7 linked regions of the Homo sapiens genome follow. The protein of the gene in region 3 purifies or fractionates together with the protein of the main gene of each other region. This does not show direct contact. Each region holds a gene or a part of one and is shown on either strand. Other genes may lie near its edges. The genes, in order: CAMSAP1, SERPINB5, KIF3A, PREP, PADI3, UBA6 and PI4K2A.

Evidence for each region.
Region 1: the proteins of KIF3A (region 3) and CAMSAP1 purify together in Homo sapiens (affinity purification with mass spectrometry; one large-scale study listed by BioGRID and IntAct). This does not show direct contact.
Region 2: the proteins of KIF3A (region 3) and SERPINB5 purify together in Homo sapiens (affinity purification with mass spectrometry; 2 studies listed by BioGRID and IntAct, with this or other methods). This does not show direct contact.
Region 4: the proteins of KIF3A (region 3) and PREP purify together in Homo sapiens (affinity purification with mass spectrometry; 2 studies listed by BioGRID and IntAct, with this or other methods). This does not show direct contact.
Region 5: the proteins of KIF3A (region 3) and PADI3 purify together in Homo sapiens (affinity purification with mass spectrometry; 2 studies listed by BioGRID and IntAct, with this or other methods). This does not show direct contact.
Region 6: the proteins of KIF3A (region 3) and UBA6 purify together in Homo sapiens (affinity purification with mass spectrometry; one large-scale study listed by BioGRID and IntAct). This does not show direct contact.
Region 7: the proteins of KIF3A (region 3) and PI4K2A purify together in Homo sapiens (affinity purification with mass spectrometry; one large-scale study listed by BioGRID and IntAct). This does not show direct contact.

The regions. Positions count from the first base shown.
Region 1 is NC_000009.12:135,816,696-135,820,813, forward strand, and holds part of CAMSAP1 (calmodulin-regulated spectrin-associated protein 1), read right to left. Parts: intron 2,452-4,118; coding exon 2,315-2,451; intron 1,922-2,314; coding exon 1,713-1,921; intron 1,385-1,712; coding exon 1,282-1,384; intron 1-1,281. UniProt on the Homo sapiens protein: Key microtubule-organizing protein that specifically binds the minus-end of non-centrosomal microtubules and regulates their dynamics and organization. Specifically recognizes growing microtubule minus-ends and stabilizes microtubules.
Region 2 is NC_000018.10:63,493,570-63,497,687, forward strand, and holds part of SERPINB5 (serpin B5), read left to right. Parts: intron 1-3,372; exon of another isoform or gene 3,373-3,934; intron 3,935-4,118. UniProt on the Homo sapiens protein: Tumor suppressor. It blocks the growth, invasion, and metastatic properties of mammary tumors.
Region 3 is NC_000005.10:132,699,393-132,703,510, forward strand, and holds part of KIF3A (kinesin-like protein KIF3A), read right to left. Parts: coding exon 4,071-4,118; intron 3,674-4,070; coding exon 3,493-3,673; intron 3,277-3,492; coding exon 3,166-3,276; intron 2,821-3,165; coding exon 2,695-2,820; intron 1,309-2,694; coding exon 1,255-1,308; intron 893-1,254; coding exon 824-892; intron 1-823. UniProt on the Homo sapiens protein: Microtubule-based anterograde translocator for membranous organelles. Plus end-directed microtubule sliding activity in vitro. Plays a role in primary cilia formation. Plays a role in centriole cohesion and subdistal appendage organization and function.
Region 4 is NC_000006.12:105,375,116-105,379,233, reverse strand, and holds part of PREP (prolyl endopeptidase), read left to right. Parts: intron 1-1,714; coding exon 1,715-1,848; intron 1,849-2,978; coding exon 2,979-3,109; intron 3,110-4,118. UniProt on the Homo sapiens protein: Cleaves peptide bonds on the C-terminal side of prolyl residues within peptides that are up to approximately 30 amino acids long.
Region 5 is NC_000001.11:17,255,453-17,259,570, reverse strand, and holds part of PADI3 (protein-arginine deiminase type-3), read right to left. Parts: intron 2,326-4,118; exon of another isoform or gene 573-2,325; intron 1-572. UniProt on the Homo sapiens protein: Catalyzes the deimination of arginine residues of proteins.
Region 6 is NC_000004.12:67,631,368-67,635,485, forward strand, and holds part of UBA6 (ubiquitin-like modifier-activating enzyme 6), read right to left. Parts: coding exon 4,086-4,118; intron 3,152-4,085; coding exon 3,062-3,151; intron 2,956-3,061; coding exon 2,875-2,955; intron 2,107-2,874; coding exon 1,978-2,106; intron 542-1,977; coding exon 490-541; intron 405-489; coding exon 341-404; intron 1-340. UniProt on the Homo sapiens protein: Activates ubiquitin by first adenylating its C-terminal glycine residue with ATP, and thereafter linking this residue to the side chain of a cysteine residue in E1, yielding a ubiquitin-E1 thioester and free AMP.
Region 7 is NC_000010.11:97,664,230-97,668,347, reverse strand, and holds part of PI4K2A (phosphatidylinositol 4-kinase type 2-alpha), read right to left. Parts: intron 3,464-4,118; coding exon 3,364-3,463; intron 1,911-3,363; coding exon 1,777-1,910; intron 1,288-1,776; coding exon 1,228-1,287; intron 1-1,227. UniProt on the Homo sapiens protein: Membrane-bound phosphatidylinositol-4 kinase (PI4-kinase) that catalyzes the phosphorylation of phosphatidylinositol (PI) to phosphatidylinositol 4-phosphate (PI4P), a lipid that plays important roles in endocytosis, Golgi function, protein sorting and membrane trafficking and is required for prolonged survival of neurons.

The sequences.
Region 1 (4,118 bases), on a different chromosome or scaffold from region 3:
GGGTGAAGAGACAAGAAAACACGGCCCACAGGTGCACACAGAGCAGGAGCCACACGCTGTGCATATAAAAATAAAGGGACACATGGGCAAGGGAAGCCCTTGCTCCCACGAGAGCTGACAACACGCGTGGAGGAAGCGGTGAGCAGGAGCTCCATGGTGGTCACTAAAGCCCCTGCGGGACAGTTCCGTGAGGTCCAGACCAGTCCCCAGCCTCTCTCCTGAAGTTACTTTCTCATCACAGGAGCGGTCCCGGGGCCCACCTGAGAGGCTGCGTTGAGAAAGACGCACACTCACTTCTGGGCTGCTCAATCAGCAGCGCGAGGCCTCAGTCTCATCACAGGAAGCCGATACTGAGAGGCAGCCAGAAGGATAACTGACCTGTGGTTACCAAAAGTCAAGGTCCAGAAAAACACAGAAAGGCTAAGGAACTGCTCTGGATCGAAGGAGACTACAGGGACATGGCATTTCAAGGCCATTCATCGCCCCAAACCAGATCCTGGACTCGGAAACAACACAGTTGTCAGGGACACTCTTGGGATAACTGAGGACAGCTGAATGGGGACCGCAAATCGGATGAAAGTGCTGCCTTGGTAACTGGTAACACGAGAAAACATTCTCGTTCTAGGAAATACACACTTAAGTATTTAAGCATAAAAGGCCAGACATCTCCAACGGAGTGGTTTTTTTCTGTTTATTTTTGCTTTTGGGGGTTTTCTGGCAGCGTCTCACTCTGTTGCCCAGGCTGGAGTGCAGTAGCCTGAGCACAGCTCACTGCAGCCTCAACTTCCTGGGCTCAAGCGATACTACCACCTCAGCCTCCCAAGTAGCTGGGACTATAGGTGCATGCCCCCACACCCAGCTAACTTTTTTTTGTATTTTTTGTAGAGATGGGGGGGTCTCACTCTGTTGCCCAGGCTGGTCTGGAACTCCAAGGCCCAAGTGATCCTCCTGCCTCAGCCTCCCAAAGTCCTGGAATCATGGGTGTGAGCCACCACGCTTGGACTCCAACGGACTCAAAACGATGAAGAAGCAGGTGTGCACGTGTGGGGTGGGGGACAGGGGAGGGTGATAAGGTGAAGGCTGCCACGTTTAACCAGCTGGGGAGCCCGTGTGAAGGGCACTGGTATTCCTGATGACATGATTGCAACTATTCTGTAAATGTGAAATTATATCAAAATTAAAGTTACAAAAGCCTCTCTCACCGTGTTTAATCAGGAAGTCCCACCCTGCCCCTCCGAACGTCCTCCAGCCCCGTGCCGGCGGCCGTCTCAGGCCCCTTACCGCTGAGAGGGTGTGCCCCCGGAATGAACGCTCTCGGGTTCTGTCGTCGCCGCAGAGGCCAAGGACAGGCTGGAGCCTGACTGAGTCCGGCTCAAGTTATCAGCTGCCAGAGACAGAAACAGACGACGGTTCATGAACGGATTCCGACAGACAAGTACCTGTCCCCTGTACCTGTTCCCCTCACCTCGCCCTGCAGAGCTCGGCCACACAGGCCGCGTCCCCACCCCATCCCGGGGAGCCGGGCTGCGCCTGGATGTGCCGCACATCTCAGAGCATCTGGTCTCAACATTGTCATCCATGAAACGGGGATAATCATCTCCACCCTTCCCGCCTCACACCACTCTTGATGACAAAATTGAAATGAGCTGAAGAACGTGAGGCCGCCGCCCGCGGAAGGAAGCGCTGCCCGCGTGAGGGCCGGGGCTGCTTACGGGTGGAGGAGCACTTGGTGCCGGAGTCGCTGCACGACTCTTCCCGGTGCACCGACTTCGGCCGCGGCTTCTTCGGCTTTGACTTGGGCTTGCCGAGCCCCTGCTCCTCTAGGATCTGCTGCTGCTTCCTCCGCAGGTACTCCTGCTTGATGAGCTCGCGCCGCGCCTTCTCCTCCTCCTTCCGCACCCGGTCTTCCTCAGCTTTGCGCCTGAGAGAAACACACGCCCAGACACTGCTCGGTCACGGGGCTTCTTCCACGACGCCTGCGCCGCGGCGCTCTGTCCAGGCGCGTTTCTCGGGTTCTCCCCGGCCGCTGGGACCAAGAGTGGCCAGCCTCCACAAGCGGGACACAGAGGCTGCAAAGGCAGTCCTGCAGATGACCCACCGAGGCCACACAGCCTCCCTGGCCACCGGCAACGCACGTCCTCACTGAAGATCAGCAGGGGCCGTGAAAGTTCGGGGAGGTGGTCCATGGGAGGAGTAAGACCGTCACAGGCACTCATTGCCATGGTCCATGCTCAGTGCCAGCAACGGGACCGGGGCCGCCAGGGACCCACCAGGCTCCTGCTCAGTCTGCTTTCCCCCCCGGCGGGACGCTTACCGGGCTTCGTCACGCTTGAGCTCCACCTCCGCTTCCAGCTGCTGCTTGCGCACGCGGGCCTCCTCGGCCTTGCGCTGCTGCTTCAGGAGGAAGGCCGCCCGCTTCTTGGCGAGCTCATCTTCCGCTTTCTGTTCATCCTGCAAGACAGAGGCCACACAGAGCATGACAGGAACCCCCTCAGACGCCGGACACGGCCGCACTCGACCCAGCAGCCGACTTCCACTACGCTTTTAAAAGTTTAACGCATAAAGACTTCTATGCTTTTCTCTAACCGTTACAGACTCTGAAATACGAATGAAGACAAACCAGGGCATTTCAAAGGCGCTCGGCATCACCCAATTTCCCAAACATCTCACGAGATCCAGTTTGCCTTAAAAAGTACACGTATATTTCCAAAATAAGAGCGAGGCTGGGCAGAATGGCTCATTCCTGTAATCCCAGCACTTTGGGAGGCTGAGGTGGGTGAATCACTTGAGGTCAGGAGTTCAAGACCAGCCTGCCCAACATGGCGAAACCCTGTCTCTATTAAAAATACAAAAATTGGCTAGATGTGGTGGCTCACGCCTGTAATCCTAGCACTTTGGGAGGCCAAGGAGAGTGGATCACCTGAGGTCAGGAGTTCAAGACCAGCCTGGCCGACATGGCGAAACCCTGTCTCCACTTAAAAAAAAAAAAAAAAAAAAAAAAATTAGCCGGGCATGGTGGCACACGCCTGTAATCCCAGCTACTCAGGAGCCTGAGGCAGAAGAATCGCTTGAACTCGGGAGGCAGAGGTTGCAGTGAGCCAAGATCATGCCCTTTTACTCCAGCCTGGGCGACAGAGCCAGACTCTGTCCAAAAAAAAAAAAGCGAAAAAGTGAATACTGAAGTTGGTCACGAATTTGTTTACATTTCAAAAGTGCAACCACCAAATAAAGCTTGCCTCTTTTGCTAAGATCCACCTGATGATTTGGTATCCTCTCAAATTCATAACTGCCTGGAGGCAAAGCAGAAACAGTTGCGTGTCGCTTGCCGAGAGAAAACGTTCTGAGAAATAGGTCCTCAGGTGACTCTGCTGCTGTGTGAGCATGACGGAGTGTGCGCACACCTGGATGGCAGCGCCCCCCACAGGCCTCGGCTACATCAGCCACTGCTCCTAGACTACAGACCTGCACAGCACATTACTGTACCCAATACTGTAAGTAACTGTGTATCAAAATCTATCTAAACATTGAAAAACTACCACGAAAACATGGTCTTATCATCTTAGGAGACGACGATATATGGTCTTATCATCTTAGGAGACAACGAACGTCACAGCAAACATCATGTGACGCACTGACTATTAAAACAGTTCAGTTTACGCTTCCCTTCATATCTAAGGAAAAAATTACAAGAAAAACATACAAAAAATGTTTTTTGAAGTTGCTATATCAGAGGTTGGCAAACTTCAGCCCACAGGCCAGGCCTGGCCACCTCCAGAGCATTCTAACGACGAACGCTTTTTACGCTTTGGGGCAGGACAGGGAGATGACAGGGTTTTGACTGGAAAACCAGCAAAAAAAAAAAAACTATGTTGAAAATCACATGAAATTCCAGTTTCAGGGCTCATAACAAAGTCGTCTCAGCCACACCACGCTCACTTGCATGCGTATTGCCCGGGACTGCTTCTGGCCAAGTGGAGTCCTCGGGACAGAGACTCTGTGGCCCACAAAGCTAAACACACACATCCCCTGGCCTCTTACAGGAGCGGCTGGCCAGCCTGGTGCAGATCTGTGTTCTCTAACTCACTATCACGTGGGGTGGCAACACATCACGAGTGCCT
Region 2 (4,118 bases), on a different chromosome or scaffold from region 3:
CTTTGATGGCTGGGCGTGGTGGCTCATGCCTGTAATCCCATGACTTTGGGAAGCCGAGGAGGGCAGATCACCTGAGGTCAGGAGTTGGAGACCAGCCTGGCCAACATGGTGAAACCCTGTCTCTACTAAAAATACAAAAATTAGCTGGGCATGGTTGTGGGTGCCTGTAATCTCAGCTACATGGGAGGCTGAGGCAGGAGAATCAGACCCTGGGAGACAGAGGTTGCAGTCAGCCGAGACTGCACCACTGCACTCCAGCTTGGGCAACAAGAGTGAAACTCCACCTCAAGAAAAACAAACAAACAAACAAACAACAAGACCAGATGCTTTCAGGCACTTGTTGGCTGTGAAAAAACAAAGTATGGCTTACTCATTGACATCACTGGAAGTCATTATGGGAAGAATTAAGGGCCTGTTTTGCAGGCCAGTCTCATTGATACTGTTGAAGTAAATATGTTAAATAATTAATAGAGGGTGGGCACAGTGGCTCATGCCTGTAATCCCAGCACCTTGGGAAGTCGAGGCAGGCAGATCACGAGGTCAGGAGTTTGAGACCAGCCTGACCAACATAGTAAAACCCCATCTCTACTAAAAATACAAAAATTAGCTGGGCATGGTGGCATGTGCCTGTAATCCCAGCTGCTCAGGAGGCTGAGACAGGAGAATGGCTTGAACCCAGGAGGCAGAGGTTGCAGTGAGCTGAGATTGTGCCACTGCACTCCAGCCTGGGTGACAAAGTGAGACTCCATCTCAAAAAAAAAAAAAAAAAAAAAAAAGAAATGGGTAAAGTACCTCTTTTGTAAATGAGATCAAGGAACTGAGACTGGAAATTTGACCCATTTTATTGGAAAACCCAGACATCTATATGATGATGTGATGTGGTCTCCGTGGGTGGGATCTGACTTGTGTTAGACTGGAAGCAGCACTTCAGTTAGTACAATACTTGAAGGTAGCTTAGTTACCTGTAGCTCCTACGCGTCAGTTCTAGTTTTCATGCTTCTCCCAGTAGTTAGAGTACTTAGCATCAATATCTTGTTTTTGCCAAATATAGTAGCACCTTCTTAATGCTAGCATCCATGAGGAAAAGCCCTGCAAGATACAATCTATGCCTGGGTTAGCCGGATGGCTTCCATTACTCTTTCTTTCTTTGTTCCCATGGAATTTTTATTCATACTCTCCCCTGTCCACTGCCAGAATTTGCTTTTCCACAGTGAAATCTGTTTACTTACATAGATCCCCTACTAGCGCATGGGATTTTTAAGGTAGGGACAATGCCTTATTCACCTCAGTGTCTACAATTTCTGGCCAAGTCCCTAACACATCAGTAGGTGCTCAGCAAATTTGCTGAATGAATGATCAGTCCCTAAGGGTCAGTTTGCTTAAACAATCAATAGCAGACAAAACCTGACTGGCCTTTGGGACTACCATGGTTTCCTATGCAAGACCCATTGGGCATTTTCACTGGGAGAAGACAATGATGACTGTTACTGCTCCTTACCAACTCAAAATATCCATGGGAGCTGAGGGATGGGTAGGAGGTCCTCCTAACTTCCTGAGTTTAGCTTCCCAACTGCAGTGGTCTTCTCAAAGCTGACTGCAGAGACAGGATTGACCCTGCACACAAGAGGTCTGTCTGAGATTCTAGAGACATAGCTTATGCTCTTCACACTCTTGTGTTTTGCACACACAGGTCCTTGAGTTTTAAGCATGGCTTTTTGACCTTCTCAGTATTGTCTTTTATCTGGAGTGGAAGTGGAACGTGACTTTACCCAGCCTCTACTGTGAGTTAGGGAGGGGTGTTGGCCCCACTGGCCCTGACGGCATCCACACAGCCTTTGCTGTCATAGAGTGACCCTTCTGGCTCCTTTGATTAGTGATTGGCTCTCCTCCATAGCAAGGGCTGGCAAAGGGTTCCTAACTCTGTTTAAGTGAAATCTGAAACAGGTTGCCAATGGTGCCTCTCTTCAAGACCCCAGAGCCAGCCTGGAAGGAACACCATGAAAATGTTGCAATAGTCAATGAGTAGAATGTGGACTTTTGTGTCAACCACACTAAGGGTCGTACTTTTTTCATTAAGAAAGTATTAACGTGTGTTTTTTGAGAAGGGAGGAAGAATGTGTGCTATTCCTTTATTCTTGCTATTAAATCATAAAGCTGGGTTATATAAGATCCTGGAAACTCAGCCTTTATGAACAGAATTAATAAAAGTTTGAAATGTCATTGATCTCTCAGTGTTTCACTTGATAAAGCAATAAAATGCTATTCACAGCTGCATGAGGCTACACCCTTCTTTTGAATGCAGATGCTATTACTTCTCCTTTGTTTTCTTTGAATTGCTTTGTCCACCCTAGAACTTTTTGAGTGACATTACTAAACCTTTTCTTATGCCCCGTGGTGTCTCCGGTAAGGGTTAGACTAAATTGGTGAAGTTATATCATTAAAAGTTTAGTATAGTACTTATTCTGATAAAGATATCTATCCATATATATCTATATTAGTATATATGTTGTATTATATTTTCTGGGGTAGATAGTCTTTATTTGGTCCTCTTTTCAGAAGATATGTCGTCTCAACATGTGTTTCAGAAAATAAAGTACCTGTAGTCAGTGCCGATAAGTGAAATTGATGACAGTTTTTGGAGGCCACAACTATGTGCACATTCAGAAACTATGAGCAGTCTAACCTGTTGGAGATTTTTAGACAAATTTCTTTAGGAGGAATATATTTTAAGACAATATCCTCTTTAGGAGAAATAAAGGGAAGAATTATCTGTTAACCTCCAAAGTAGTATGTTTTCCTATAATTCTGTTTTTGGTTACACATAGAGTTGAAGTCTTCCATTATTTATCAGCCAAATATTCAGTGAGAAACTACAAGCTGGGGTAGAAAATGAGACTTAGTTTCTGCCTTGACTGTATTCTAGTTGGGGTGGGAAGTGGAAAGACAATCACTAGATAATATTTCTAACACTGTGGCAAGTGTTAAAATAGAGGTATATACAAAAGTAAAATAAATAACGTTTAGCTCTGCTGGAGAGAGGTATTGGGGAAGGTTCAGCTTAGTATTTGAAGATACCAGATGCAAGTTTACTGGAGTATTATCCTTGCAGGCTTGATATGAAGTTTGAAATTTCTCCCCAAAGAGATTTAGTTAACAGGCAAATATCCCATGGGAGGTATATGTCAATAGGTTATACAACATTACTGTCAGTCTTTTACAACTTAGCGTGAATTAATTTTCCTTCAGGAAATCAGTCATCTCTGGAGCAGAGACAGGAGGCCAGGTGTTAATAGGAGCAAAGAGAAGAAAAGGCCTGGGCAGTGCTTGGACATAAAAGACCTGAACGATCAGACCCTTCCATGGGCTCCCTTTAAGAAGAGCAGGGAGAGACCAAGGGCTAAAGTTGGGAGACTGAGAAAATGCAGCCCACCGGGGCATTACTTATTTCTCCAGCTCTGATCCGCTGTTGTACTAGGGGTCTAATCCGGCCTGTGTCTGCCTCCTTCTTGAATAGCCCAGAGCATTCATCTAAACAGCCTTCCTACAGCAGCTCCCCACTTTAGGTGTGGCCAGACAGGAGTTCTAGACCAGGTTGTCTCCTGGGACATTGACACCGCAGCCAAGTTTATTGGTGCTGAGGCAGACACAGTTGGTGTGGTTGGTTCAGGGGCTAGCATTGGAATAGCGTTTGGCAGCTTGATCATTGGTTATTCCAGGAACCCATCTCTCAAGCAGCAGCTCTTCTCCTATGCGATTCTGGGCTTTGCCCTGTCTGAGGCCATGGGGCTCTTCTGTTTGATGGTCGCCTTCCTTATCCTCTTCGCCATGTGAAGCTCTGTGGGGGTCACCTGCCTGTCCCTGCTGCTGCGGCTGCACACCATTCTTGGTGCTGGGCTGTGCTAAGCTTTACCATTGAACACAACGTTTCTGAAAAAAAAAAAAAAAGAGCCAAGCATACAGTGGAGCTCAAAGGGACTTAGAGATAATTTTAAAAAGACTTAGAGATAATTTTAAAGAACATTTTCCTTTTTAAAAATTATGCAATACTCCAAGCATTCAGAAAATGATAGAGAATAATAAAACGAACACCCATATACCGATCAATCATCTTTTTGAAC
Region 3 (4,118 bases):
CCCACAGAAGCTAAAACCAAAGAAATGTCTAATGACATCATCTTCTAATCCCAGTATCTAAAATGTACTTAATAAAGGTTGGTGAGTAAGAAGCCCTGACACACTATAAATTTCCTTGGACATAAAAACTGTTGCTGTTTTTCTTAAAGCTGCCCCCTCTTCTTCTTCTTTTTTTTTTTTTTTTGAGACGGAGTCTCACTCTGTCGCCCAGGCTGGAGTGCAGTAGCGCGATCTGGGCTCACTGCAAGCTCCACCTCCTGGGTTCACGCCATTCTCCTGCCTCAGCCTCCTGAGTAGCTGGGACTACAGGCACCCGCCACCACGCCCGGCTAATTTTTTTTGTATTTTTTTAGTAGAGACGGGGTTTCACTGTGTTAGCCAGGATGGTCTTGATCTCCTGACCTCGTGATCCACCCGCCTCGGCCTCCCAAAGTGCTGGGATTACAGGCGTGAGCCACCACGCCCGGCCCGCTCCCTCTTCTTCTTGACCTAGGACTAGAACTAGCTTTGAAGAGAAAGAAAGACACATTCTAGTCTCCACCCATAATCCTACGACCCAGAGTGGTAGTGAAAAGAGGACTCCAAAGAGTGAGTCCATGCCCCTCTTGTGGTGGGAATAAGCCTGACATCAAGACTGATGGTAAGCAGAACTGTCCTCCTCATCACCCCATCCTAGAGCCTTTATTCCCAAAAGTATCAGCCCATTTTTCAGCAGAGCTGATTAACAGATATCAAGTTGATAATACAATTTAATGACTCATATTCCTATAAAGAAACAACAGTAGTTTTGTGTTTTGTTTTGTTTTTTTTTAAGTACTCTTACATCTTTCTCCTTTTTATCAGGTACTGGGGTTTGCTTCCTCATGTTATTTCCTGTATAAGCAACACATTTCTCAAAAAAAGAAAAGGGAGAGACAGAGAAATGTCTTAATTAGTAATCAATACTGTGAGTTAGGCAAATAACTGAGAAATCCTAACATTACACTAGTAAAACATGATTTGAATGCTAGAGCAGAAAGGGCCCCAGAGGTCACTTAGTCCCACATAGCCCCTAACTCTGACCATTTCCACCCAGACCATGATCTGTATGTTACAATTAATTACATGGAATTAGAAAAATATTTTATCTGCCCTACTGGATTCTCATCTGATTCATCTACTGGACCATGTTCCTCCCCACTGTAGCCAGCACAATTTCTAGACCATAGGAAGTACTCTTTAATTATTACGTGAAAGAATGAAGGTAATACTCACTAGCTGCCATTCTCCTATGTCTTCATTCCAATGGACATAGTTTTCAATCATTTCCTTTTAAAAGGGTGAAAGATAGCCTATTTTTAATATTTAATAACATCTAAAATATTGAAGTCATAAAACTAAAATCTTAATAACATTGAGTAATAAAAGTCTCAAAACATTATATACTGATATAACCTTTTTATAAATTCTAAAATACATATTTCTTAGGAATGCATGCAGATGAAATAAAACTAAATGAAAATGAAAAAACAACAGAATGAGAAACTTGGGAATCAAGATAATGATTACCTTGGGTTGGAAGAGGCAAAGGAATGAAATAAGGGAAGGGGAAACTGGTTAGAAGTAGTTATTATCAGGGTCCTAGATATTGTTTTGGGTGATGAGTTCATTACAAAATAACTAAATAAAAGCAGGCCATCCAAGGACCAATAAGGAGAATGTACCATGAACCCAGGACTAATTCCATGTACCTGAGGTCCAAAAAAAAAAAAAATGACTAAGACTTATTTTCAGACAAATTTCTTAAAACTGTATTGAGATTCAAAACAGATTTTTAAAAAATTGGCCAGGCATGGTGGTTAACACCTGTAATCCCATCATTTTGGGAGGCCAAAACGGGCAGATCAACCTGAGCTCAGGAACTCAAGACCAGCCTGGCCAACATGGCTAAACCCCATCTCTACTAAATATACAAAAATTAGCTGGGTGTGGTGGTACACGCCTGTAATCCCAGCTACTCGGGAGGCAGAGGCATGAGAATCACTTGAACCCGGGAAGTGAAGGTTGCAGGGAGCCGAGATTGCACCACTGCACTCCAGCCTGGGCAACAAAGTGACTCTGTCTCCCTGACAAAAAAAAAAAAAAAAAAAATCATGTTAAAGTTTACCAAAATGCACTGGAAAGACAAATTTTGGATTAAAAAAAATAGAGGCTGAGATTTTAAAATTATACTAGTACTAAGAATTAGCATCCATCTGGAGATGAATGATGGTACAGGTTGCACAACAATGTGAATGTCCTAAATGCCATTGAACTGCACACTTAAAATAGCTAAGATGGTAAATTTCATGTTATCTATATTTTACCATATACACACACACACACAAAGAATCAGCACCCACAGCAGGGAGAAAAAGGCAGCACAGAGGTTCCATTTATTCTACTTGTATGATAATGGGCGCTGAATGAAGGAATGGGACCTACACCTTGATTCTGATCACATATACATGAATCTGAGTTCGTCTAAAAGGCTAGATACTCAAACAGAGATTATGTATTAAAAGTTAACAACTAAAGTGAAATGTGATGGCATTTGTTCAAAAAATTGTACATTCAATAACTGAAGTATTAAGTATTTATCATCAGTTAAATTAGAAATCTTTGTTCCTTAATCCCAGTCAAGCGACTATCTCGGTCAGAGAACTTCCTTTTTACCTGATAATCCCGAGGTATAAAGTTATCAATAATAAGCATCTGAAGTCGAAGCTCCCGGCTAAGTTGCCGAATGTTCTCCAGTAGGCCTTCAATTTCCCTCTGATGTTCTTGTTGGAGATCAGCCATCTACCAGAAAATCCATAAAAATATTATGAACAAACAAGACTTTAACTACAAAACAGCACCATCTCACATAGGATGCTTGTCTAAGAAACCTTGTGAGAGCTTACCTAGTTCTTTTATAAAAATGATAAACAGCGTGACACTATCAGCATCTATTCTACACTATTTGTTAAGGTTGAAAAGAAACAATTTAGACTAATAGATAAAATTAAAAATTGCACATAAAGAAATATTTTATTTCTTTTAAATTATAAGCTCACATTATGATTATTTATAAATTCTTAATCAAAGAACTCCCTTTTAAAAAATCCAGAACTGCATTAGTAGGTAATTTCTAAGAGAACCAACCTCTGACTTTGCAGCCATCAGCATAGTCCAAACTTTCTTTAACTTCTTGGTCTTTCCCTGTGCTTCCTCTTGCAAACTGGTATATTTTTCTTCAATATCCAAGCGTTCTTGCTATGACAAAAATTAGTAAACTTCAGAATAAATTTCTTTGTAAAATCAAATATCTAATTCTTTAACAAATGACATAAATGTTTAGCAAATCTGATCTTCAAAGCAATCCATAAATATGCTTTAAAATTTCAATACGATTATAGATATTTAGCTTTCCACTAGAAAAGTTAAATCTCTCTGGCAAAATACCAAACTAAAAACAGAAAGTCACATTACCTCTTTTTCCTCAAGTTCTCTGCGAAGTTGCTCTGCTCTTTTCCTCCTTTCTTCCAGTTCCATGTTAGATTCTTCAAGAAGTTTCTCTTGTTCCTCAGCTTTGGCCAACAAGTCAACCCCACCAACAATTACCTTCTTTTCCAGGGCAGATAATTTTTCCAGCAAAGACTGATGCTCTTGTCTGTTGATTAGAATGAGAATACTCTATATTCACTGATGATCTATTATTCTACTAATATCATTTCCCAAAATTTAAAATTTGGATATACAATTTCAAAATAGAAATATAATTATGTAACATCTCTGCCAAATTACACCACTGTGTAGTATCGATTTCTAACTTAATTTATAACTCATTCTAATTCATTGATATGTTTTCCTATCACACGGAAATAAAATAACCAAAATAGATCTAGTTTTTAGAAATACACTATATACAATGGACCCTTCTATCCAAAATAGCTACACTGGAGACAAAAATCCAAGCTTTTAATTACTATTCAATTTTCCTATTTTATATATCCTAGGAAAAAACAGAAATTTAAATCATGAATTCATCTCAATTCAATAATACTCACTGGGCTTTAAGAAGATCTTTTTCCCGTTTCTCTAATTCAGCTCTAGCC
Region 4 (4,118 bases), on a different chromosome or scaffold from region 3:
TGATCTCCAGAGCCACAGGAAAGCGGGCCAGGGCGAAGATTGCCAATCCCTAGTGATAGTTGGAATTGTATTTCTGTGGGACTCAGTAAATTTTATTTTCTGTTTAAATGAAATCAGAAATGTGACCTGTAACAGTTTTATTTTTCTTGAACTGGTCCTCTTGCAAAAATGTTAATTACTGTATTCATACTTTACATCCCTTGTCTCTTGTTTTTAAATGCATTGTAATCAATGAGCTTTGGAACAGTTTGTCTCACCACAAAATCATGGTTCTGCAGAGTGGGATTGGTGGTTTTTGTAGGGGAACCCAAAGCATTGTTGCACATTTGAAGACCATTGTGAGCTTGGATGGGCCCTTAGAGTTTGATGATATATCCAAAAGTGAACTCTGATAATAATGCATTTTTCCCTGCCATTCAAAGTATATTATGGTCTTAATTTCCTGAAGTTTTTCCCTGATGATTTACTTATTTATAGACATCTGATGAAATCTTCTATTGAATTTAAAGCTGATACAATGTTCTTGTTTCATTTCTTGCTAATAGCCAGATGTGAATTACTAGTAGCCAAGTTTTTATGGTATTGTCAACTTTTTAACTGGTTAGTTACAAATAGGGTGTGCTTGGATACAACTCATCTTTTGTAAAAGCCCCTTTTCCTGCCTTCACTACCAGTATTTCCTGATGGCCATCTCTTGCCTTTCTTATAAACCATGTTGCTGATATTCTTCTGCAATGCCACTTGTTTCAGGTGTTTTTTGTTTTTGTGTGTGTTTTAAGACAGTCTCCCTGTGTCGCCCAGGCTGGAGTGCAGTGGCACGATCTTGGCTCACTGCAACCTCTGCCTCCCGGATTCAAGCGATTTTTGTGCCTCAGCCACCCTGAGTAGCTGGAATTACAGGCACCCACCACCACGCCTGACAAATTTTTGTATTTTTAGTAGAGACAGGGTTTCGCCATGCTGGCCAGGGTGGTCTCGATCTTCTGGCCTCAAGTGATCCACCCGCCTCAGCCTTCCAAAGTTCTGGGATTACAGGCATGAGTCACTGCACCTGGCCTCCAATGTTTTTTCAATGTTCTTTGGTTGCAAATTTTAGCAAAGTTCTCTGATTGAAATTAACATGGTAGTAGGTCTTACAAAGCCAAAATCGATAAAATAGCGCCTGGGTATCCCTAACTTTCTCTCTTTGACTCTGACTTCTCTTGGGATGGCCAGGTGCTGAATAAGAATCCCGGAACCATGGCACTGCGTAAATGCAGATTATTGGCAGTGTGTGATCTGAGCTACAGTATAGTGTGTTTGTTAGGAGCGTGGATCTGGGAGCCAACTCTGCCATCTGCCACTTCCTAGCTGTATGATGTCGGGCAACTTTTTAACCACTCCAAACCTCAGTTTCCCAATCTGTAAAGTTGGCCTAATAAAAGGACCTTCTCCATAGGATTATTGTGAGTTCTAAATAAGTTAATACTTGCCCTGTAAGCATTAGCTGAGTTAGTACCATGTAAGCATTGGTTGTTACTACATATTAATCAGTCACTTGGCAGGAGCTGGGCAGGTATGAAGAAGAGTAAGGAGGTGAGAGAGGCTGGTAATGAGAGAGAAGAGGCACTGGCTAAGAGACAAAGTGTGCTTTTTCTGATACATATTAGTGGATAATATTTCACATGGAAAATTTTATATTTAACTTGCTTTGTCCATTTTAATTTCTCCACAGGCCTTTGTGGAGGCCCAGAATAAGATTACTGTGCCATTTCTTGAGCAGTGTCCCATCAGAGGTTTATACAAAGAGAGAATGACTGAACTATATGATTATCCCAAGTATAGTTGCCACTTCAAGAAAGGAAAACGGTGAGACTGCTTTTACTGAATTTCCTTTTTATTTTCAAAGTAAATGCTTTCTTAAATTGTAAAATACAAATTCCAGATAACTTGTCCTTGTATAAGATTAATTCATTATAAGGAATTAATTTCTATGCCTGAATATGAGAGTAATATTTTTGATCTATTAGGTATTGTCCAAATTGTTAAAATAATAGTTAAGAAATTTAGTAGGGATAGGTCATATAAAGAAATCTAGATTATAGGAAATCGTCGTCTTATCGGTAGTAATTGGTGAGATAGGATGATTCATAGACAGCAGTGGAGGTTTGTTTGCCTCCGAAGTTAATTATCTTTGATGTATACTACTTGGAAACATTTAATTCTGTGTTTTTCTTCTGTCAAAGAATGGTGAAATGGGTGAATTCACTTCTCTTGTTCCTGTCCCGTTAACACCCACTTACAGATGTTTTCTTGATCTTTTATTAAATCTCTTTGGAGCCACTATCACACATTTACTTTAGACTTTCTTCAGCCCTCTGCCATTCTTACAGAGATCGGCAACGTACAGTCTGCCTACCAAACCCTGGCTGCCTACCTATTTTTATAAATAAGGTCTGATTGGGACACAGCCATGCTTATCGGTTTACGTATTGTCCATAGCTGCTTTTGTGCTGCAGCTACAGGCCTGAGTATTATAGTGACAGACTGTATGGCTCACAGAGCTTGAAATATTTGCAGTCTTGCCCTTTACAGAGAAAGTGTACTGACCTTCCACCCTAGCAGCCTTGCTAGGGAAAAGAACCAGAATTTTATTTTAGAAAAGTCTGCTTTCTTCTTCATTTAAAAGAAAAAGTTACTGCTTTATTTGAATATCAATTTTTATTTTAACACATAAAATGGTCTTTATTTGCCTCTACTCGGCTAATGTGCAGGATTACAATACAGGATTTGAATATGGAAGCAATTCTGTTAACAAGCTCTAGGTAGAGAGAAATGATGGAACCTTTCACCCATGTCCCCACGTCCCTGCGATGGCCAGATTACAGTGGTACCTTTTTAGGTCTTTGGTTTTGTTTTGGTTTTTGCTTGTGTGTGTTTGGTTTTACTCCACAAATAGAAAACTCCACAGCTGAATAAAGACCATCTCTGTTCCCCAGGTATTTTTATTTTTACAATACAGGTTTGCAGAACCAGCGAGTATTATATGTACAGGATTCCTTAGAGGGTGAGGCCAGAGTGTTCCTGGACCCCAACATACTGTCTGACGATGGCACAGTGGCACTCCGAGGTAAGTGCTACACAGAGAGGCCCGTGGAACTCCTAAGACCCTCACTTGGAGCTCTGAAGTTAGTGCAGTTGCTTTACCTCTGAAATGCCAGGCAGGGTGTGGACCATATTGTGGAACAGATGCACATACAATATCAGGAAAGCTAATTTTTGCACAGTATATTTAGAATACATGAATAGTCACATTCCTCTTTTCCACTCTGATGGCATGAAGCAGAACTGGAAAATAATTAACACTGGACCCAAATTAGCTTCTAGGGCTTCTGGAATCTTGACATATCATCATCATTTCCTCCAACATCCCTGAGACCTACCTGTGATTAGAAAAAAATAAGTCGTCTTCTATAAGAAGTTTAAGCTGTACAAAGATTATTCCAACTATAATATTAAACAGGAAAGAATGTTTATCAGATCAGTTTCCCTCTTGGGAAGGAGGCGATTAGAGTTTTAAAAATCTAGTTAATTGTCAACATGTTAGAATTACAAGTAAAAACACACAAATCTTGTAGAAATTGAACAGCTGGGTATCCTGTTCCCTGAAGATGGAGGTTTAAAGACTAAGTTTGTCCACAGTTGCTGTACATCTCCTACTTAACTCTGCCCCTAAGATAACCTCCTCCGTAGGCCATAGAGAAGATTATCCAAGGTTTCTGCAGTAAGCAGAGTTCTAGGGTAAGGAACTAAGTTATTCTCCAGTTCTGTATTTTAATAATTGTAAACTCTACAATGATAATGATGTTATAGATGACGTTGGCTCAGCATTTCTCCTGTAGTACCTTCTGGTTTTATAGAAAAAACCATATGATTAGTTATGGCCCTCTAGAATTGAGAAATTGAGACATTGAAGTCCTCTGTAATCAATAAGATGGGAGTTATAGAGCCCCGTTCCATCAGACCTGTGCAAAGACCCTTTTTTATACAAACACTTCTAACCATGATCCAGTCATTCGGTGGTCCACCTTCCCCTCCCTCTGAATAGGCTGTGTATATAAACAATGATCCTTTATCGA
Region 5 (4,118 bases), on a different chromosome or scaffold from region 3:
GGGCAGAGAGCCATGGTCGGTGCCGAAGGAGATATATTTTGCTCAGATGTTTGAGCTTTGGCTCAAGCCCTGCTTCCTCCAGGAAGCTTTCCTTGGCCACCCAGTCCCCTCAGATCCTCACAGTAAGCTCCTGCGAGTCAAGCCTGGACCCCACACAAACATATACACAGTCGGCCGGGCGTGGTGACTCACTCCTTTAATCCCAGCACTTTGGGAAGCCGAGGCGGATGGATCACTTGAGGTCAGGCACTTTGGGAAGCCGAGGCGGGCGGATCACTTGAGGTCGAGCCTGGCCAACATGGTGAAACCCTGTCTCTACTAAAAATACAAGAAAATAGCCAGGCGTGGTAGCATATGCCTGTAATCCCAGCTACTGGGGAGGCTGAGGCAGGAGAATCGCTTGAACCCAGGAGGCAGAGGTTGCAGTGAGCCAAGATTGCACCACTGCACTCCAGCCTGGGCGACAGAGCAAGACCCTGTTTCAAAACAAAACAAAAAAACATACACACAGTCTGATGTTCTAAGCCCCTGTGTTCATTAACATTTCCCTTGTGAGTTTCTTTACCACTCACCAGAATGGCGAGCTCTTCGGAAGTCAGAAGCCAGCCATGTGCTCGATAAATCCCCAGTGCAGGTCTGGGCACGAAGAGCTCAGTGAACACCAGCCATTGGTGGGTGGAGCCCCTTACAGTTCTGAGAGCTTTAAAAAGAGCAATTCTCACCCCAGATCCCATCACATGTCTCCTTAGTGGGTGGGAAGATATCCTTGAATTCTTCCCTGGGAAGGGAATTCAATCTGGTTGAGTGCCCGCTGCATGCCAGGCACCTGGCGCACGCAGCTCCCTCCACTCTTACAAGCTGTAAGGTGAGCAATATCATCCCCATTTGGCATATTAGCAACTGAGGCTCAAGGAGGCCTCGTGACAAGCCTGAGGTTGCATCACATGGCAGAGCCAGATGTGCAACAGGTCTGACTCCAAGCCCATGCTGTTCCACAGCTCTGCAGTGTCACCCGGGAAACTTGGCCGGATTTGGTCAAACAACCAGAAATTAATTGCAGGTTTAAAGTATCTGTGATGTTATCTGGCCCTGAGATTGCATTTCCCTCATTCCACCTAGCCTGGGGTTCCTCCTTGGAAACCAGACTATGCATCCTTTGACTGTGGGGTGCCCACTGTGCACTCAGGTACTGCCTGGCGGGCAGATCCACCCACTGCTCTCCCCACTGTTGATCCCGCTGGGGAGCTGAGGACCAACATTGTCCAGGGCAGCCAGATGGGGCTCAAGGCCACAGGATCACAGCTCAGTGGGAACCCATGTAGGGAGAGGCCACTGCGAGTTGGAGGGCCTCCTGGAGGCAGCGGCATGCATGCCCCTGGGGGATAACAGTGACTGACACTTACTGAGCTCATGCTGTGTGCCAGCCCATCATGCAATCCTCTCAATAACCCTAGAAGGGAGGCACTATCTATTATTGTCTCCCATTATACAGATGAGAAAGCCGAGGTTAAGTAACTTGCCCAAGGTCTGTGGCCGGGCTGGGATCCAAACCCAGCCATGTGGCTCCTCAGTCCACACTCTTGCCCACCACCTCCCCAGGAGTAATAATAACAACAATACCATAACATAAAAAGCCCCCAGCCTCTGCACTCTTATCACGGCAGGCCTGCCTAAGCCTTTTTGTACATTAGCTCATCTGATCCTCACTGCAGCCCCAGGATGAGATAATTACTCCTGTTTACACATGGGGAAACTGAGGCACAGGATACGTAGGGGACTACCCCAAATTTCCACAGCTGGCCACTCCCCCCGCTTCCCATCTTCCCTCAGAGTAAGGCAGACCTCCCCCAAAACAACCTCTTCACTCTTCCACCAACATGATTCTCTTACATCTCAAAGCAGCTTTTTTATGAAAAGGGAAATAAACCAAGCCCAAGCTTCTCTCCATCAGGCAGGTCCCACTCTGGTGTCTGGGCCCCTGTCAGGTGTCCTCACCAGTTGGGAGGGACAGACACACCTGTTTCTCCTCCTAAGCAGGGCTGCCAGACTTAGCAAATAAAAATACAGAAAGCTCAGTTGGACTTGAATTTCAAGTGAACAGTCAATCATTGTTTGGTACTCCCGTGAAGTATTTGGGATACACTTATACTAAAAAAATTATTAATTATTTACCTGAAATTCAATTTTAACTAGGCATCTTTTATTTTATCTGGCAACCCTACTCCCAAAGCCTGTAATTTCCAGGGCTGGTGGAGCCCTCTGGCCTGTTTGGCCCTGGGCAGCCCCCCACAGGGGAAATGGCAGAACCAGGGAGAGAGGCATGAAGACACAGAGACAGAGAGATAGGGACAGAGAGACTTGGAGAGACCCAGCGAGATGGAGAGTCAGAGACAGGGAGTCGGAAAGAGACACAGGAAGACAAACCCAGGTAGGAAGAGCAGCCTCTCATACCCTCGGGAACACCCTCAGCCACGCTCCTGAGGCACTCGCCTTCCATCTCCCAAGGAAGCCTTTTTTTTTTTTTTTTTTTTTTTTTTTTGAGACAGAGTCTTGCTCTGTCGCCCAGGCTGGAGTGCAGTGGTGCAATCTTGGCTCACTGCAACCTCCACCTCCCGGGTTCAAGCAATTCTCATGCCTCAGCCTCCCAAGCAGCTGGGACAACACAGCCCACCACCGTGTCCGGCTAATTTTTGTATTTTCAGTAGAAACAGGGTTTCACCATATTGGCCAGACTGGTCTTGAACTCCTGACCTCAAGTGATCCGCCTGCCTCAGCCTCCCAGCTGGGATTACAGGCGCGAGCCACCGCGCCTGGCTGAAGCCTGTACACTTTTTATGGAACTCCCTCAACCCCAAAGCTGTTCCTTGGGCCTCCAGTGTCCATGGGCAAGGGCTGAGCGCCCTTGATGGTCCTTCTGGTATGAAAACCCCACTCAGTCCCCAGGCTCCAGCCCCTGGGTGTAGGGTGTTTCAGCCCAGCGCCCCTGCCTCTCCATGTGCCAGGCTCTGTGTGAGATGCTGGGGGATCCCCAGTGAAGACTGAAGCACCCCTGCCCAGGAGGGTCCCCAGGACCACGGTCTGAACAAGGGCTTAGCACAGGTGAACAAGCTACATCTGAGGTTGGGGAAGGGAGGGGCTGCAAGCCGAGGGCTCAGGTGGTGCTGGGACCAGAGTCAAGAATTAGGTTTTAGACCAGGCTGGGTCACACATCGGCCAGCTGAGCTTGACTAAATCACTTAGTCTCTCTGGGCCCATTAACCTCACCTTAAAGTGGGATAATGACACCTACTTGGCCAACCTCATGGGCAATCATGAAACTCAAGTGTGATAATAGACAGGAAAGGCTTGCAACACCATTGGCCCAGGACAGGGAAGGAGTTATTAAAGTAAATGAGGGTGCAGGAAACGGGTCTGGAGGCAGGATGAGACAGTGGGCTGGGTGGCTGGGGCAGGTTCCCCAGGGAAGGCACCAAGAGGAGACACAAGTGAGGGGAAGGTGTTTTCACCGTGGAACCTTAAGAGGTCTAGTTTAGACTCAGGCTATAATGAGCTTGTTTTCATTTCATCCCTATGTAATGGGGAGCCAGCGCTGGTTCTTGATCAGGAGGGGCAACATGATGGAGCCGTGGCAAGGTACTTGAGCCTGTGGTCCCTGGGGCCAGACAACTGGGTTCAAATCCCAGTCCCACCACTCATTAGGTGTGTGACTTTGAGCGAGTGACTGCCTCCCTCAGCCGCAGCATCGACATCTATCTGGTGGGGATGAGGAGAAGATGAAAGGAACCAGTGTGGGTAAAGCACTCAGGATGAGCAAAAGTCATGCCCTCATTTCACTGATGGGGAAACTGAGGCCCAGAAGATAAGTGACTAGAAGGTAGGGCTGCTGACTTCCAGTCCAGTGCTCATGCCTGTCATGAAAGCTGTGTGTTAGGAGAATGAGAGGGGCAGCTGCTGGGAGGAGAACCTGCATCAGGTACGGGAGGATCTAGCTTCCCATTTCCTAGAGAACAGGGGAAGTACCTGGAGCCTCACCTGGACAAAGTCCTTCCTCTCCAGGCCACCTCGAGCTGCCAGCATGGCTGAGCTGTCACATGCTGGCTTCTGGGCTTTCTAGGCAG
Region 6 (4,118 bases), on a different chromosome or scaffold from region 3:
TATAACTGAAGATTCTTATATTTGATTTCATTAAATGTAAAAACACATTGTCATTTTACTAATTTATGGATAAAGTAAAAAAGGTGATTTTGGTTTCACCTTAGATATTTATTATAAATAATGAGGTTATTTACCATGTAAATGAATGGATTCACATTTGTGTGGGAAGGGTTGTGGCTGGCTTTCTTGGTCAGAATGACTTGTTAACTCTTAAATGAACAGGGATGAAATAATTTAACATTAAAGAGCCTAAGGTTTTCACTCTGCAATGTACAGTTAAGGAATTTACAGTAAAGAAATATATAATGAAGGATACATAAAACTAAATATAAATACTTACAAAGGCTCATTTAAATCAAATTTTATTGGAGAGGGTGGCCTCTTTGGTGACTGCCAAAATAAACCTGGCAAAAAGATACAAATATCATTTTCAATGTATGTAGCCAGTAATAAATGTCATTAAAATTTATTCTCAACATTTATACTTACTGCCATCTTTTAATCGTATGTCCAGAGGGAAACAGTGAAGAAGCTGAAGAGCCTAAAGAAAAAAAATGAATTAAAGACACCCACTACTTAATATTATCTGAGGAAAAATTAAAAAATAAAATTAAAAAATGTGTGTAGTAAATATATGCACATGATTCAAAAATCAAAACACATTAAAAGAGACACAGTGAAGTCTCCCTACCACCCTTGTATTCCATCTGTCCATTCTCCTGTCAATGTCCCTCATAAATGAAAAATTCAAATATCATTTTCTATCACTATTTGTAGGTTTATTGGGAGGTGGTATCTACAGCAAACAAATGTAGATTACTTCACTCCTTTTTATATAAATGGCATATTTTACATGTCATTCTGTTCTTTTTAAAGAGCTAGTACTTAAATAACAAAACCAGAAAAAACACACAGTACTTTGTATTTTTGAAATTGATACATGTTTGAGATTTGCTTCAAAATCACCTGGGGGAAGGTAAGAATGAACGGGAATGGTGATGAAACAAGATTTATCTATGAATTGATAACTGCTAACCCTGGGTGATAGGTAATTGACAATTACATTAGGGTTCATTATACTATTTCCTCTACATTTCTATGGCTGAATATTTTTCATTATAAAAAAAGTTTAAAAAAAATGCACAGAAGATAAGAACTAAAGAGTTCCTTAGATTTTTGAAACGGGTCATTGATAACCATGTTAAGAACAATCTGAAGAGTAATGAGCAAAGAAGTCAAATTTACTGGGTAAAGAAGTGGTAACATTGAGTAGTACAGACCACTTTTCCAAGAAGTAGAGCTCTGTTGAAAGTAAAAAGAAGAAGTATAAACGAAATATTTTTTAAGTGGGGTGTGGTGGCGTGCACATGCAGCCTCAGCTACTTAAGGGCTGAGGCAGGGATCACTTGAGCCCAGGAGTTCCAGGCCAGACTGGAAAACATAGGGAAACCCTGTTTTTTTGTTTTTTTTTAAAGTTGTTTCTAAGGAAGATGAACTTAAGATCCTAAAGAGAGGGAAAGACTAAAGAGAAGGCAACACACATTCCAGCAACTATATTTAACTGGAGGTAAGAATAACAGCTAATATTTAGTAATTTTTTATGTGCCAGGCTCTGTTCTAAATGCTTTGTGTTACCTCCTTTTATCTTTACCACTACCTTATGTATTAGGTACAAATTTATTATTTCTATTTTACAGATGGGGAAACAGACATAAAATGTGATTATCAGATATGGGTGGAAATGGCAAAATCTCAGCAAAATTTCTGACTAAATGTCCCTATTTTCTCAGTTTCTTGCTTCTTCTATTCTGAACAAACTTCTTTTAGATTAGCATGTGTTCTCATTTAACTTACTACTAATTTCTGAAAAGCTTGCCAAAAGAAAGAATACACATTTCAGGTCAATGAAATTAATTTGTTAATAACTAAATAAGCCAAGATCAGACCTTTTCTTAATGTCTCACAATGCATACTTACCTTATGGTTAAAATATTTTTCAAACTTTAATCTTGCTAATTCTACACACTGGGACCAATTTCTAGGTCTTCTGCTAAGTAACTTTATAACTTGAAAACAGCCTTCTAAACTGTGTCCACTCTGTATCTTCTAGAATGGGAGAGAAAAAAAAAATCAACATACTTCCAATTACAAACATATACACATCCCTCACCAAAAGTTAGCCTAAGTTTGAAGTGTCAACTCATGTGTTTTATGCTTTTCTTTTTTCACCTCAAGCTCCTTTTCCCTTCCTTCTTCTTTAACCTTTCTTTTCTTTTCTGTTTGAGAAGGGGAATGGTAAGAGATAGCATACAAAATTTTAACTCTGATTTCTTATCTTACAAGTTATCCTCATATTTTCCTAGCTGTAAGTTATTAGTACTATAATATATGTACTCACTATAAGTGCTATGAATATTTGATACTAAAAAGTGGGCCTTGTTAGCAAAAGATTAAAAGAAAGTGAGAAAACATCTTTAAAGTTGCCTTCACTATAAGAGTAATAAGTCTTGGAGATTATTGTTCCCTCATGAAATTTTAACTAGAACTTACCTCAATTTTTTCTTTCCAAAGGGCTTAATAAAAGCCCTTTTATTATTTGTAGCCCTTCTATCATAATTATCATATCTTTATTAGCTCGCACCATACGAATTGCTGTTTTGTGAGTCGAACATGCTCAAATATCGACAATTCCATGTAGTTCAAACAACCAAAATGATAATTTGTGACCTAATTTCAAGATTCCTTATGTATCATTTCATTTTTTATATACAATCACTCTTTATGGAGGTAAAATAAATCACTTGTAGATGACTTGAAAATAAGATTACACTGACACAAAGTGTTAAGTTTGTATTAAAATTTACTGATTTTTACCTGTAAGACTTCTTCTGCAGATGAATAGGTTTGCCAAAATTTGTTAAACAATGAAGGTTTGTGGGAAAAGGAACTTTCAAACTGTAACAGAGAAAAGAAAAAAAAAATTACAAATAGAAGTCTGTTTAAAGTCAGAAATATCTTCTTTCTCACTTCAAAGAAAATAAATTTAAAAAGGAACTTTTACCTTATCTCTTGCCCACTGTATGGTATGTTCAATAGCAGCTGGAAAGGATTTTAGAGTACAAAATGGTATTTCCTCTTCTGGGGGATCCCGCTAATTTATAAAATATGACAACAGGTACTTAAGGGGAAGCAATGACCAATTTTTATTGATTTAATCTAGTTTTGAGCTTTAAGCCTATTAAAAATCCAAAAATAAATAAAATCCAACCAGACATTTTTATATCTTCTCTCTCTTAGGCAATAAGAGAAGTTAATTCTTTTGACATTTAACCTATTTGTTAATAGCTATGTAATGCCAAACATGAATCTTATTTATTATTTGTGTACTCATTTAAAGCACCATGTAGTACTCATGACACACCATCATCTATAAATCATTTTTTTCCTCATGAATCAAGGTGACATTTAAAGTTTTATAACACTGCCCCGCTTTGAAAAGTAATTCAGGAATACCCAGTATAGTGCTCAGAAAAGCATGAGTTTTTCCATGGAGAAAAACATCTGGGAGCAGAAATATGTCCTCAATGCTTGAGGTTTCTTGCAGAAAGCATGTATTAAATAAATGGTAAATACCTAAGTCGTTTTTTGTGGATAAAGTACCATTGAAGAAATCCACATTCTATTATAGAGTACATTTTGCCTAGGTTTATTGGTTTACCTAATCTAAAATGACTCACTTTGTCTCAGCAAGTGAATAAAATTTTATGTCTTTGTTGACAGTTCTAGTCTCAATCTAATAGTTTGTTCTTATCAAACAATCTTAAACTCAAAGGGTATTAGAAAACTAAGCAGCTCTGAGAAATAAATAGTAAACAGAAGAATAATGCTCCAGAAACACCAGACACAAAATTCTGATAATTAAAAAAAAGTTCAATTATATTTTAAAAAATGTACATGCACATATGTATGAACATCATTGGCAGAGCAAAATCAGAAGGATTAGGAAAGCTAAATCAAATTGTTGATTAAGACAAAAATTACAAGATATAAAAAAGACATCTATTTCAAAATATTGATTCACTTACATGACTATTGTAAGACTCAGTCAAATGCGGTAC
Region 7 (4,118 bases), on a different chromosome or scaffold from region 3:
CCTAAGCCTCTCAAAGTGCTGGGATTACAAGTGTGAGCCACCATGCCTGGTCTCAGCTACTATTATTGATCCCACATTAAACATGAGGAAACTAAGGGAAGGAGAGATTAAGTAACTTGCCCAAAATCTCACAGGTAGTAAATGGCAGAGCCAGGCTTCAAAAACCCAGGCACTGTGACCACAGTTTGCACCCTTAACCACTAGGTCATCCCAACTCTCTTTAAGAAGACTTCAAAGTGATAGGCATAATACCAGTACCCTACAGAGTTTTCAAACCATTTTTCAAGCATTTCTTTACTATGCTTTGGAAGATCAACAATCCCCTTGGTTTCCTTAGCTCCCTTTGAAGGTGAAGTGGAAGGAGAAGGAATAATGTAAGTTGCACCTATAACAACAAAATTATAACCATAATCAATATGTGAGTGCTTCATGTGCCCAGTACTCTTTTTACTAAACGCTTGATAAGCATTATCTCATGAAATTCTCCAGCCAACTGTGCAACGTATTATTACTATCCTGTTTTATGAACAAGAAAACAGAGGCTTTTGCCCCAGGCCACAGAGCTTCCAAGTAGTGAAGCAGTCTGGCTCCAGGGCCCAGATCTTAACCACCAAAACATACAGCCTGCCTTGAGCAACTCTAGGACAGAGAGCATTAGTTTAATTACCAATGAATTACCTAGCAACTAGCATAGAGATGAGTGCACATTAAGTGCTTCAACAAGCACTGGATACCAGGGAAGAGGTGGGAGAATTGGGAGGGCCACTTTTCCTCTCCTAGGTGTTAAGGTACAGCCAAAAATAATGTACACAACGGACTTAAAAAAGCTGTAAAACACGGCCGGGCGCAGGGCCTCACGCCTGTAATCCCAGCACTCTGGGAGGCAGAGGCAGGTGCATCACTTGAGGTCAGGAGTTCGAGACCAGCCTGGTCAACATGGTAAAACCCTGTCTCTACTAAAAATGCAAAAATTAGCCGGGCGTTGTGACATGCGCCTGTAATCCTAGCTACTTGGGAGGCTGAGGCACAAGAATTGCTTGAACCTGGGAGGTGGAGGTTGCAGTGAGCAGAGATCATGCCACTGCACTTTAGCCTGGGTGACAGAGTGAGACTCGGTCTCAAAAAAAAAGGGGGGGGTATAAAACACAAACTTCAAACATTTGCTCAACCTGAGCACACAACACTCCCAGAGACGCCAAAGATACTGGGAGGATGTCCCAGGCTTACCTGGCCCCGCATGACAGCAATCTGCTTATGGAACTGGCCCCTGTCGAAACCAGGATCTTTCTGCAAAAGAAGACCAGAAGGAGATGGAACCTGTGTGAATGCCTCACAGGAACCCATTTTCTCCCCCAGTTAGAAACTTTCTAAGAAGGAAAACCTGCATAAGGCTTCTGCAGCTTTGTGAAGTCAACTACTCCCACAAGAACTCCCTGCTTTACAGATGAGGAAACAGAAAACAAGTCAATATCTTCCTCTGCATCTCAAACTCTAGGCTCCAGTGCTCCATATTAAAATGAAAGCCCTGCAGATACATTGCAGCCACATGATGGACAGGAGAGACACATCAGTGTGATTTCTCACCCCTGCCCATTTCTCTCAAACCCATCCAAACCAGGTCCTGCTGTCCACATGTGGAAATCTTGCTATTCGTTGGCTAACTCAAGTCAGAAAGGTGTTAGCCATTTCCTCTTGGCTTTTGTCAGGACCAATTAAAAAAACCATTAAAAATTCCTTCTCCCATATGATAATAGGGCTGAGGTTCCCAGGGCTAACCTTGAAGAGTTCATATAGGTCCTCTTCCAAGTCCTTGACGAAGTTAGGGTCCGATATCTTTGGAAGGATCAGATCTTTGATCTCCTGAGAAAATGGGACTTTCGCCTGGGGCAACCAGGCCCAGTAAAAAGGATCTGAAAAGAGGAAAAGTCAAAGGCAAAGCTGGTGTTGGAAAAGTCCCTGCTCATCTGTGTCCTCCACCAGTCAAGGCACTTTCTAAAGGAGAACCCCTCTTCCCTGACATACAACAGAAACAAAAACTTACAAGTGCTCTTAACTGTAAAGGTTACACAGCTAGTCAGTAGAGGAACCAGGGTTCAAACCCAGGGCTGCCTAATGTCAGAGCTCATTCTCAGACATTACATGACCTTCCAAGATGCAAGGTCTAGAAGCAACTACTTGCCACTGAGACGCTGAGATGGTCCTTCTGAAAAGGAAGACTAATGCTGCAAAAGGGGCTACTGACTCCCTACATTTATTTCTCCTCCTTTCCAGAAGCTTCTCAGTTACAACAGGGTAGGAGATGGAACAAGGAAGACAGAACACTGATAGGAAGCTTATATTTAGAGGCACAATTAGAATAAATTATGGAAAGACAGTCCTCAGATAACAGGAAAAAAAAAGATATTTCAGGAAATATACACTAAAACAATAAAATAACAAATTAAAAAATTAAAAAAGGGCCGGGCGCAGTGGCTCATGCCTGTAATCCCAGCACTTTGGGAGGCCAAGGCGGGTGGATCACAAGGTCAGGAGATTGAGATCATCTTGGCTAACACACTGAAACCCTGTCTCTACTAAAAATACAAAAATTAGCTGGGCATGGTGGCGGGTGCCTGTAGTCCCAGCTACTCGGGAGGCTGAGGCAGGAGAATGGTGTGAACCCAGGAGGAGGAGGTTGCAGTGAGCCGAGATCGCGCCACTGCACTCCAGCCTGGGCGACAGGGCAAGACTCCGTCTCAAAAAAAAAATAAATAAATAAAAAATAAATAGCCCTCAGCCAGGCGCAGTGGCTCACACCTGTAATCCCAGCATTTTGGGAGGCTGAGGCAGGCAGATCACCTGAAGTCAGGAGTTCAAGAACAGCCTGGCCAACATGGTGAAACCCCGTCTCTACTAAAAATACAAAATTAGCCGGGCGTGGTGGCGCATGCCTGTAATCCCAGCTACTTGGGAGGTTGAGGCAGGAGAATCGCTTGAACCCAGGAGGTGGAGGTTGCAGTGGGCCCAGATCGCACCATTGCACTCTAGCCTGGGCAACAAGAGCGAAACTCCATTTCCAAAAAAAAAAAGTCCTCAGAAAGAACGAGAAGAATGCAAAGAGACAATGAGAAAACTCATCTTTATGCTTCTAATTTCTAATCACCTTTATGCTTGTAATGGGAATCATAGAAGACAAAAATTAGAAAAACAGCTTACATTATGAAATAGTTGCCATATGCCAGCCATTGTGTTAAAGTGCCTGAACTCCATTATTTCATTAATTTTTAGAATAATCCTATGATAGAGACATTATCATCTCCACTGCACAGTGAGAAAATATACTGAGCAAGGGAAGAGCCAGACCACCATTGTCTGGAGACTTACATGCCCTCCAGGAGTCAGGATGCTTCAGTGGGAAGGCCAGCCCATTGTCTATGGCAGCCACCTTGATAACAGGCTCCTTCACCACCACCCAGTCTGTGTCCTGAAGAGCAAGGAAAGACTAATGACTGAGGAAACCCATCTCCCTCAGGCCCTTCCAATTAGTAGCAAAGCAACTCATCCCAACTCCCTCAAGAGAAGAATTCTTATTGAACTTATCTTGAGCTACTCTCTGAACTGGCTTCCATGTTGTTATCTGAACTTAGCACATTTTGGTGCCTCTGACCTGGCTCTTGTTCAAAGTTCAAGAGTCCTGTTCTTATCTTAGAAAAGGTACACTTCCCCAAGAGTTGCTACAGTCCTTGGTAAGAAGGAAATGACAATAATAAAGATAACTATAAGCCATTCCTCCTAGGGAAAGAAAATGAGAATCCTGAAAGCAGAACAGAAGAAATAAAATCCATATCAGTTGGCCAAGGTCCTTTTGTGTGGACCTTGACTCAGATGTTACTTCACTGGTGACAACTACATTTTCCAGTGAGAAAACAGAGCCTCGGAAGATAACAGCTGGCTGCTCTTGCACAAGGGAGTCTGTTCTCCTGCTTCAGTGGTGCATGAAAAGGAAAAGGACAAGAGATGAATGTAAAAAGAGTGGGCATGTCACCTGTGACAGCCCATGTCAGAGACAATCACTGACTATGTGGCTCCATGCTTCAGGTTCATGGGTGCCATCACAGGAACAAGAACTGTGGTTCCAG